Linked DNA regions of Homo sapiens: region 2 is linked to region 1. A link means that fine-mapping ties the variant in region 1 to the expression of a gene that starts in the linked region. Tissue or cell type: whole blood. Region 1 holds a variant in brackets; the other region holds the start of a gene. All regions are shown on one strand. Distances are between the middles of the regions.

What was found. PIP is the estimated chance that this variant, and not a neighbour inherited with it, causes the effect.
Region 2: it holds the start of A1BG-AS1, and the variant in region 1 is fine-mapped to the expression of A1BG-AS1 in whole blood (INTERVAL, PIP above 0.99).

The regions. Positions count from the first base shown.
Region 1 is chr19:58,156,873-58,162,018 of GRCh38, forward strand. All of the region lies in intron 1 of LOC124904784 (a long non-coding RNA gene), which reads left to right. Among named protein-coding and RNA genes, the nearest start is that of ZNF329, 8.7 kb to the left of the region's middle. The variant AT/A (reference allele first, on the strand shown) is at 2,683.
Region 2 is chr19:58,349,191-58,354,336 of GRCh38, forward strand. It overlaps A1BG-AS1 (A1BG antisense RNA 1), which reads left to right and starts at 2,780. Exons shown (of 4, transcript NR_015380.2): 1 at 2,780-3,854; 2 at 4,189-4,284; 3 at 4,524-4,667. A1BG (alpha-1-B glycoprotein) reads right to left here and starts at 4,302. Exons shown (of 8, transcript NM_130786.4): 1 at 4,214-4,302; 2 at 4,102-4,137; 3 at 3,738-4,007; 4 at 3,093-3,365; 5 at 2,201-2,497; 6 at 1,180-1,461. The coding sequence starts at 4,247.

The sequences.
Region 1 (5,146 bases):
CGGAAGAACTGCTACAAGTACAATTCCTAGATGCTAGCGAGAATGGCATAAATATTTAAAATAGTTTTAGTTATATATTATGAAATTTCCTTTCATACGTCTTCTACCATCAGTGTGAGAAGGTCACCGCCACCCACGTTCACCCAGCAGATACTCATGTTCTCTAAGCTTTGCATGTCTCTGTTGTTTTCTGTTGTTGTTTGTTTGTTTAAGACGGAGTCTTGCTCTGCTGCCCAGGCTGGAGTGCAGTGGCACTGAGAGGTGACAGCGTGCTGGCAGCCCTCGCTCGCTCTTGGTGCCTCCTTAGCCTCGGCGTATGCTCTGGCCATGCTCGGGTAGCCCTTCAGCCTGCCACTGCGCTGTGGAGCCCCTGTCTGGGCTGGTTGAGGCCGGAGCCTGCTCCCTCAGCTTGCCGGGAGGTGTGGAGGGAGGAGGCGCGGGCGGGAACCTGGGCTGCGCGCGCTGCGCTTGCGGGCCAGCTAGAGTTCCGGATGGGCGTGGGCTGGGCGGGCCCCGCACTCTGAGTGGCCAGCCGGCCCCGCCAGCCCCGGGCAGTGAGGGGCTTACCACCCGGGCCAGCAGCTGCGGAGGGTGCGCTGGGTCCCCCAGCAGTGCTGGCCCACCGGCGCTGCGCTCGATTTCTCGCCGGGACTTAGCTGCCTCCCCGCGTGGCAGGGCTCGGGACCTGCAGGCCGCCATGCCTGAGCCTCCCCGCAACCCCCGCCCTGGGCTCCTGCGCGGCCGGAGCCTCCCCGACGAGCGTCGCCCCCTGCTCCACAGCGCCAGGTCCCATCAACTGCCCAAGAGCTGCGGAATGCGGGCGCAAGGCGCGAGACTGGCAGGCAGCTCCACCTGCGGCCCTGTGCGGGATCCACTGGGTGAAGCCAGCTGGGCTCCTGAGTCTAGTAGGGACTTGGAGAACCTTTATGTCTAGCTAAGGGATTGTAAATACACCAGTCAGCACTCTGTATCTAGCTCAAGGTTTGTAAACACACCAATCAGCACTGTGTGTCTAGCTCAGGAGTTTGTGGATGCACCAATCAGTGCTCTGTGTTTAGCTAATCTAGTGGGGACTTGGAGAATTTTTGTGTCTAGCTCAGGGATTGTAAATGCACCAATCAGCACCCTGTCAAAATGGACCAATCAGCTCTCTGTAAAATGGACCAATCAGCAGGATGTGGGTGGGGCCAGATAAGGGAATAAAAGCAGGCTGCCCGAGCCCCCAGTGGTAACGTGTTGGGGTCTGCATCCACATGGTTGAGGCTTTGTTGTTTGGCTGTTTGCAATATATCTTGCTGCTGCTTGCTCTTTGGGTCCGCATTGCATTTATGAGCTGTAACAGTCAATACCAAGGTTTGCAGCTTCACTCCTAAGCCAAGGAGACCATGAAGCCACCAGAAGGAAGAGACTCCGAACACATCCAAACATCAGAAGAAACAAATTCCAGAGACGCTGCTTTTAAGAACTGTAACACTCACTGCAAGGGTCTGTGGGTTCATTCTTGAAGTCAGTGAGACTAAGAACCCACCATTTCCAGACACGCACAATCTCAGCTCACTGCAACCTCCGCCTCCTGGGTTCAAGCAATTTTTTTGCCTCAGCCTCCCGAGTACCTGGGACTATAGGGGCGCATCACCACACCCTGCTATTTTTTGTATTTTTAGTAGAGACGGAGTTTCACCATATTGGCCAGGTTGGTCTCAAAACTCCTGACCTCGTGATCTGCCTGCCTCGGCCTCCCAAAGTGCTAGGATTACAGGCGTGAGCCACTGCGCCTGGCCTGTTCACTGTTTTTGTGTAACAACTTACCACAAAATTACCAGCTTAAAAACCACATTTTTTTTCTTTTTTTTGGAGATGGAGTTGTGCTCTGTTGCCCAGGCTGGAGTGCAGTGTCACGATCTCGGCTCACTGCGGGCTCCGCCTCGTGGGGAAAGCCACGTGTATTTATTATCTCAGTGTTCTTGTGAGTCAAGAGTCTGGGCATAGCTTAACTAGGCCCTCTGTTTAGGATCTCCAGAGGTAGCAATCAAGCTGTCAGCTGGCTTCATTCCCATCTGTAGACTTGATTATAGAAGTATCTACTTTCATGTTCATTCAGTTGGCTGAATCCATTTCTTTTTTTTCTTTCTTTTTTTTTTTTTTTTATGAGACGGAGTTTAGCTCTTGTTGCCCAGGCTGGAGTGCAGTGGCGCGATCTCGGTTCACCGCAACCTCTGCCTCCCAGGTTCAAGCAATTCTCCTGCTTCAGCCTCTTGAGTAGCTGGGATTATAGTCATGCACCACCATGCTTGGCTAATTTTGTATTTTTAGTAGAGACAGGGTTTCTCCGTGTTGAGGGTGGTCTCGAACTCCTGACGTCAGGTGATCCACCTGCCTCGGCCTCCAAAAGTGTTGGGATTACAAGCCTGAGCCACCGCGCCCCGCCTGAATCCATTTCTTTGCAGCTGTAGAGCTCACAGTAGCTTCCTTTTTTCAGGCCACCAGCAAGAGTCTGTAAGTAAGCCTTCTTATTTATTTATTTATTTAGACAGAACCTCACCTCGCTTTGTCATTCAGGCTGTAGTGCAGTGGCGCAATCATACTTTACTACAGCCTTAACTTCCTGGGCTCAAGCATTTCTCCTGCCTCAGCATCTCAAATAGCTGGGATTACAGGCATATGCACCACCATGCCTGGTTA[AT/A]TTTTTTTTTTTTTTTTTTTTGAGAGGGAGTCTTACTCTGTCGCCCAAGCTGGAGTGCAGTGGTGCGATCTCGGCTCACTGCAACCTCTGCCCCCTGGGTTCAAGCGATTCTCCTGCCTCAGCCTCATGAGTAGCTGCGATTACAGGCGCCTGCCACCACGCCGGGCTAATTTTTGTATTTTAGTAGAGACGGGGTTTCACTATGTAGGTCAAGCTGGTCTCGAACTCCTGACCTCAAATGATCTGCCTGCTTCGGCCTCCCAAAGTGCTGGGATTACAGGCGTGAGCCACCGTGCCTGGCCATGCCTGGCTAATTTAAAAAAAAATTTTTTTTGTTTAGCCAGGCTTGGTGGTGTGCACTTATAGTCCCAGTTACTTGGGAGGCTGAGGCAGGAGAATGGCGTGAACCCGGGAAGCGGAGCTTGCAGTGAGCCGAGATTGCGCCACTGCAGTCCGCAGTCCGGCCTGGGCGACAGAGCGAGACTCCGTCTCAAAAAAAAAAAAAAAAAAAAAAAAAAAAGATCAGTAGATACTGAGAAGGAGTTGGAACTGCAAAAGGTTTATTGGGGGGCATACCTCACACCTCTATTCACACCACATGAGCTAACATCCTGTTTGCTAAAGCTAGTCTCATGTGTTTTAGTCCCAAGTCAAGGAACAGGAAGAGGTTCTGTGTTAATTATCCACTGCTTTGTAAGAAATTACCCCAAAACATAGCTGCTTAGGCCAGGCACGGTGGCTCAAGACCAGCCTGGCCAACGTGGTGAAACCCTGTCTCTACTAAAATAAATTAGCAAAGCATGGTGTTGCGCACCTGTAATTCCAGCTACTCGGGAGGCCAGGGCAGGAGAATCATTTGAACCCCAGAAGCAGCGGTTGCAGTGAGCCAAGATTGCACCATTGCACTCCAGCCTGGGCAACAGAGTGAGACTGTCACAAAAACAAAAACGGGCCAGGCGCCGTGGCTCACGCCTGTAATCCCAGCACTTTCGGAGGCCGAGGCAGGCAGATCACGAGGTCAGGAGATTGAGACCATCCTGGCTAACATAGTGAAACCCCATCTCTACTAAAAATACAAAAAATTAGCCGGGCGTGGTGACAGGCGCCTGTGGTCCCAGCTACTCAGAGGCTGAGGCAGGAGAATGGCGTGAACCCGGGAGGCGGAGCTTGCAGTGAGCCGAGATCACGCCACTGCACTCCAGCCTGGGCGACAGAGCGAGACTCCGTCTCAAAAACAAAAACAAAAACAAAAACAAAAAACAAAAACATAGCAGCTTACAACAAGGGAAGACAACTTTTTCTGTAAAGGACCAGACAGTAAATATTTTAGGTTTGGGGGACTATATGGTCTCTGTTGCAACTGTCAACCTTGTTGTAGCACAACAGCAGCTATTGACTATACATAATACATGGGCAGAGCTGTATTTCAGTAAAACCTATGGACAGTTGAGTGTGGTGGCTCACACCTGTAATCCCAACACTTTTGGGGGCCAAGGTGGGAGGATCACTTAAACCCAGGAGTTCAAGACCAGCCTGAGCAACAAAGTGACACCCCATCCCTACAAAAATAAAAATAAAAAAACTTTATGGGCCAGGCGCGGTGGCTCACGTCTGTAATCCTAGCACTTTGGGAGGCCAAGGTGGGCGGATCACGAGGTCAGGAGATTGAGACCATCCCGGCTAACACGGTGAAACCCTGTCTCTACTAAAAATACAAAAAATTAGCCAGGCGTGGTGGTGGGCGCCTGTAGTCCCAGCTACTCGGGAAGCTGAGGCAGGAGAATGGAGTGAACCCAGGAGGTGGAGGTTGCAGTGAGCTGAGATCGTGCCACTGCACTCCAGCCTGGGTGACAGAGTGAGACTCCGTCTCAAACAAACAAACAAACAAACAAAAAACTTCATGGACACTGAAATTTGAATTTCATATAATTTTCACATCACAAAATATAATTATTCCTTTATTTTCAATTATTAAAAGATGTAAAAACTACAATTAATTGATCACAACCAGTTACAGATTTCTTTGTTCTTCTCCACTCCCACTGCTTCGTTTGACCAGCCAAAACAACAAAAAAAAGAATTTTAAAAAATATAAAAACTACTCTTAGTTCATAAGCCATCCCCTCCCCAAAAAGGCAACAGACGGGACCAGACCTGGAAACTATAGTTTGCTGACTCCTAGCAGTAACAAATTACCACAGATTTAGTGGCTTAAAACAAAATAAAGTTATTATCTTATAGTTCTGGAGGTCAGAAATCCAAAATGGGTTGGCTTTCCTTTGGGAGGCATGAGTGGAGAATACATGCCTTCCATTTTCCAGCTTCTAAAGGACACTTACATTGCTAGGTCTATGGCCCTGAGTCACTCCAACCTCTGCTTCCATCATCAAAACTCGTTTTCTGATTCTGACTCTTCTATCTTCCTCTTCCACATTTAAGTATCCTTGTGAATACACTGGGCCC
Region 2 (5,146 bases), 190 kb after region 1:
TATTTTTAGTAGAGACAGGGTTTCTCCATGTTGGCCAGGCTGCTCTTGAACTCCTGATTTTGTGATCCACCCGCCTTGGCCTCCCAAAGTGCTGTGATTACAGGCGTGAGCCACCTTGCCTGGCCAAGATTAAACATTTTTCATCAATTGTGGATGGTGGCTTATAACACTGCAAGAATAGGCTGGGCATGGTGACTCACAAGTGTAATCCCAGCACTTTGGGAGGCAGAGGCGGGCAGATCACAAGGTCAGGAGGTCAAGACCAGCCCAGCCAACATAGCAAAACCCGGTCTCTACTAAAAATACGAAAATTAGGTGGGCATGGTGGCATGCGCCTCTAATACCAGCTACTCAGGAGGCTGAGGCAGGAGAACTGCCTGAACCCAGAAGGCGAAAGTTGCAGTGAGCTGAGACTGCACCACTGCACTCCGGCCTGCAAGAATAAAAGTAAGTTATCCAAAAAAAAAACAAAAAGGAGAAGAAAAGGGAGGAATGAAGGAGAGAGATGGGGTTGGGGGGCAGAGATGAGAGAGAGAGAAAGAAGAAAAAAGAAGAAAGAAAAGAGAGAAAGAAGGAAGGAAGAAAGAAAGAAGGAAAGAGAAAGAAAGAAAGAGGAAGGAAGGCAGGAAAGAAAAGAAAGAAAGTGAAAGAAAAGAGAAAACGGTGCTCCCAGCAAAGGGTACGACCTCAAGATCTGGAGGTCAGACCTGTGCCCTCACGCTCTGCTGGGCTCTGAGTCCTGGAGACGTCGATGAGGAAATCAGAGGGACAAACAGAGCTGGGGACGGCGGGGATGGGGAGAAGGACACATCAGCCGTGCGCCTGCGGGACCGGGGCCGGGGCGGGGGGTCCAGTATGACGACTGACATGGCCAGTAATAAAACAAGGCAGCCACAGAGCTGCAGGGATCTGAACAAGAAAACCTGGGGCCAGCCTCCCTGCTGCCGACCACCACGCTACACGTGACCTACGGGCTTGCGTCCGTGGGAAATAAGCCGAAATTCCAGGCGTCCCCAGACCCTCGACCACCGATCGCCTGCTCCCCGCCGGGGTAGGCGATGGGGGCTGAACCAAGGCCCAGAGCGCCGCCGTCGGACGCCCAAGGAAAGAGGGGAAAGACAGGAGGCCCCGAGGGGCACTGAACCCGCGCCCGCCCTCGCTGGTGCCCCGCCAGCTCACCGTCCACGTGCAGCTCCAAGCGCTCGCTGGGCGCGGAGCCCCCGAAAGGCGGCTTCAGGTCCACGTAGACGCAGCTGTAGTTGGCGGAGTCAGCCACGGAAATGTTGTGCAGCTCGAAGAGCGCCTCGGTCCCAGCGGGGCTCTGGAAACGGTGCACGCGGCGCCCGCCCCTGTCCTCGCGCACCAGGGCGAAGCGCGCGCCCTCCAGGGGCGCCAGGCACCGCAGCCGCAAGGCCCTGCCGGACTCCGGCTCCGGGGAGAACTCCGGCGCGGGCAGCGTCTCTGCGGAGCAGCACACGGGCTGACCCGGGCGCCCAGCGGCTGGCTCGGCCCTAACGCGTGGTCTGGCCTCGCGCTCTTTGCCTTGGCTGAGTCTTCTGCCCGCAATGACCTGGCCAGCTTCCTCCCTCGCCTCCTCCGGGCCCGCCCCACCTTTGCATCCCAGTCCTTGGATATCTCACACGCACCCTTTCACTGTTTCTTAGTAATTTGTTTGTCTACAGACACAGACGGGAAGCGGGGACGGGGACATGTTTTGTGCATGGCTTGATGCCTGGTGCACGATGCCGCTCAGTAGTGGATTTGCTCCACGAGCGTCTTCTGAGCACCGCCCCAATGCCCGCCCCACGGAGGGGCCCCTGTGGTCCGCTGGGCATGGGGTTCGCTGTCCGGTGCTCAGAGTTTGCTAAATACCATCAGGTCCAAGGCAAGCGAGCGGAGGAGCTGCCTCAGCAGAGGCCCTCAGTGCTCACCTAGACCTGGCAGCTGGGATGGGACCTGCCAGGTGGTGCCCCCTGTGGCCTGGGCCAGACCTGTTCACCCAGTTATTCCCTGTGGGGCCTGAAGGTTGTCACGCTCATCATCATATTTGCAGTTTAGGACCCTGAATCGGCGGGTGGGCGGATAAAGTTGGTATTGGACCCTGGCCCAGAGCACTGCACTTCCCCAGACTCTACACCTGGTACTGCTCCTGCTCCCCAGGGACCCAGCCGCGTCCCTGTCCCTGCTGGCCCCGGCTCACCATCGCTCAGAATCAGCTCGACCGGCGCGCTGTCCCCGGACCAGCCGTTTTGGTTGTCATGCAGCCGGTAGCGGCAGGTGTAGTGACCTCCATCCCCCAGGGCCACCGCGTTCAGGTGAAAGAAGATGCGATCTGGGCTGGTGCTGCTCCTGGGTACCAGCAGCTCTTTCTCCCCGCGCCGTAGCTGGAAGTCCACTCCACTCAGGGGAGCCACGCAGGTGAGGGTCACCTTGTTGCCAGGGTGCAGGACCTGGGAGGACTCTCCATGGTGCATCAGCACAGGCGGTGGTGGTGCAGCTGCAATGCAGGCAGCATTACTAGGCTGCCCCATCCCTGGAGCTGCCCTCTGCCCAGTCCCCAGACCTCTGCCCTCCGGGTGGCAATCCCAGGAACACCCTTCCATTCTTTTTTTTTTTTTTTTTTGAAACGGAGTTTCGCTCTTGTTGCCCAGGCTGGAGTGCAGTGGCGCCACTCAGCTCACTGCAAGCTCTGCCTCCCAGGTTCAAGGGATTCTCCTGCCTCAGCCTCCTGAGTAGCTGGTACTACAGGCACCTGCCACCACACCTGGCTAATTTTTGTATTTTTAGTAGAGACGGGGTTTCGTCATGTTGGGTAGACTGGTCTCGATCTCTTGACCTCATGATCCGCTGGCCTCAGCCTCCCAAAGTGCTGGGATTATAGGCGTGAGCCACCGCACCCGGCCTCACCCTTCCATTCTTTGGGCATCCTCTGCCCAAACTCCTTTGCAACCATCAGACCCAGGCAACCGTGTGGCCAGCTTCCTGGACCTGGTCCTGGGCAAGGACATTCAGCATGGAGGTCAGGATGAATGTGGTCATGCCCCCTGTATCCTCCTCCCCCAGCAGCCCCCAGAGATGGTTCCCACAGTCACCGAGCTCCTCAATGGTCACAGTAGCGCTGGGCTCAGAGAGGGCGCCTTCCCCATCGGTCCGGTAGCTGCAGCTGTAGTTGCCAGGCTGATGGACTGGAAAGGTGGCCTCCACATCCTCCTGGGCCTCAGGCACCTCCAGAAACTCATGGTCGCCCTCCCGCCTCAGCAGAAAAGTCACACCCCGCAGCACACCTCGGCACACTGCTGTTGTTTTCAGGCCGGGGGTGATCCAGGACACTGGCGCCATCGAGAGCCAGGGAGCAGGCAAGGACTCTGTGGGTGGGGTGGAGTTGAAGAGTGCTTCTGCATAACAGGAGACGTGGGAAGCCCAGCAGAACCTGGGCCCCACACTCATAAGACTGTGAAGGAGACAGGGATGGAGGGCATTGCTGGGAAAAGGCAGGCAGGCACCAGTGGAAACAAGGCATACGGCAAGAGAAAAAGAGTGTGTGGGAGCTGTACGGCATGCCGGGCCTGCTGGGGACACAACCATGTATTCCTTACAACACAGACATCATCCCCATTTGACAGATGGGAAGATTGGGGCTTGGGGCTCAGAGACATCGGGTGACTTGGAGGAAGGGAGACCCCCCAGTCAACAACCTACCCACTGCCTCCTGGCCCCCAATTCATGCCCCGGCTCACTTGGCCCTGTCAGCTCCAGGAGCTTGCTCAGCTGGGTCCATCCTGTGGACAAGCCCGAGCGGCAGCGGTAGCGGCCCTGGGTGTCACCCGTCAGCAGGAACTGGTGCTTGATGGCAGGTGAGTCAAGGTGCACAGGCTCCTGGGCCACCCCATTCTTGAACAGCTGGAAGTCTGGAGTCTCCAGGTGGGCCTGGCACGTCAGCGTCACATTGGCCAAGGGTTTCAGCAGTGATTCGGACTCTGCCCACAGGCTGGGCTGCGTCTCATAAACTGCAAGGGGTGGCTGGGATCAGCTCAGTGCCACAGAGACAGGGCTCCCCCCCGGCCTGGGCCCACCATTCCCAGACCTCACCCCTGCACTCACATATGGCTGCTTCTGTCACTGGGCCCCAGGTGACACCTGCGGAGACAGCCCCCGTAAGGCTCCTGTTCCCGCCCCCTCCCGCCCCAGGGACCCAGACCCCAGGAGGCCTCACCCCACAGCAAGAGAAAGACCACGAGCATGGACATGATGGTCGCGCTCACTCCGGTGCAGTGAGTGTCTGGGGTGAGCGTCTGCAGCAATGAGGCCCCAAGGGAGGGCGGTGGGGTGGCTCGGGCACTGACCTCTTCCCGTGTTTGTCCTTCCCGGAAGGCGGGGGCAGGGCCCCCATGGGGTCAGGGCAAAGGGTGAACTTCTGAGGCCTCAGGATGCCCAGCAACAATTATAATCAATAATCATGTATGATTAATAAACTAAATCAAGAGTGATAAAATGATGTTAAAACCACCTCATCCTCATTTCAGTGATGGATCCTAGAACCTGTTCTAGAAGGAGACGCTGAGTTCTCCCCACTCTACCTGGAGCTGCTGAGGTCAAGTGGAGAGTGCCGGGGCTGAAGCCCAGCGAGCCCCTCCCTGTCACACCACACTGCACATGTGACACCAAAGGTGGGGTTCACCTCTTTTCAGACTTTCTGCGGTTGCCCTCACATGGGCTGTCTGGAGGTGCACCCTCACTCTTCCTGAGGACTGTGGTTCCTTCTCCATCACTGGTTCATTCTGCATGGTGTGACCCACCACGGCTCTGGAGTCGGATTTCCACCCAGGTCATTCAGCTGAGACCTGCGCTTCCCAGGCCTACCCGTGACATGTGCTCAGTTACCTGAGCTGCTGGTGGTCACTCATGTGGCTATAGCCTGCTGCCTGGAGGCCAGGCCTCCCGCTTCCCCTGCCTCCCCCTCTCCTCACCACAGCCTGTTGGGATGGAACAGGACAGGGGTGAGACCGTGGTGCTTTCACACTCAGCCTCCATGGACATCCTGTCATTCCCACCCGGGGAGGTCTGGTCCCCACCCTGGGTGTCCCAGCCTAGCTCCGCTACGAGTGTGAGGGCCCAGGGCAACCGCCTAGCCCTCATCTGCCCCCTG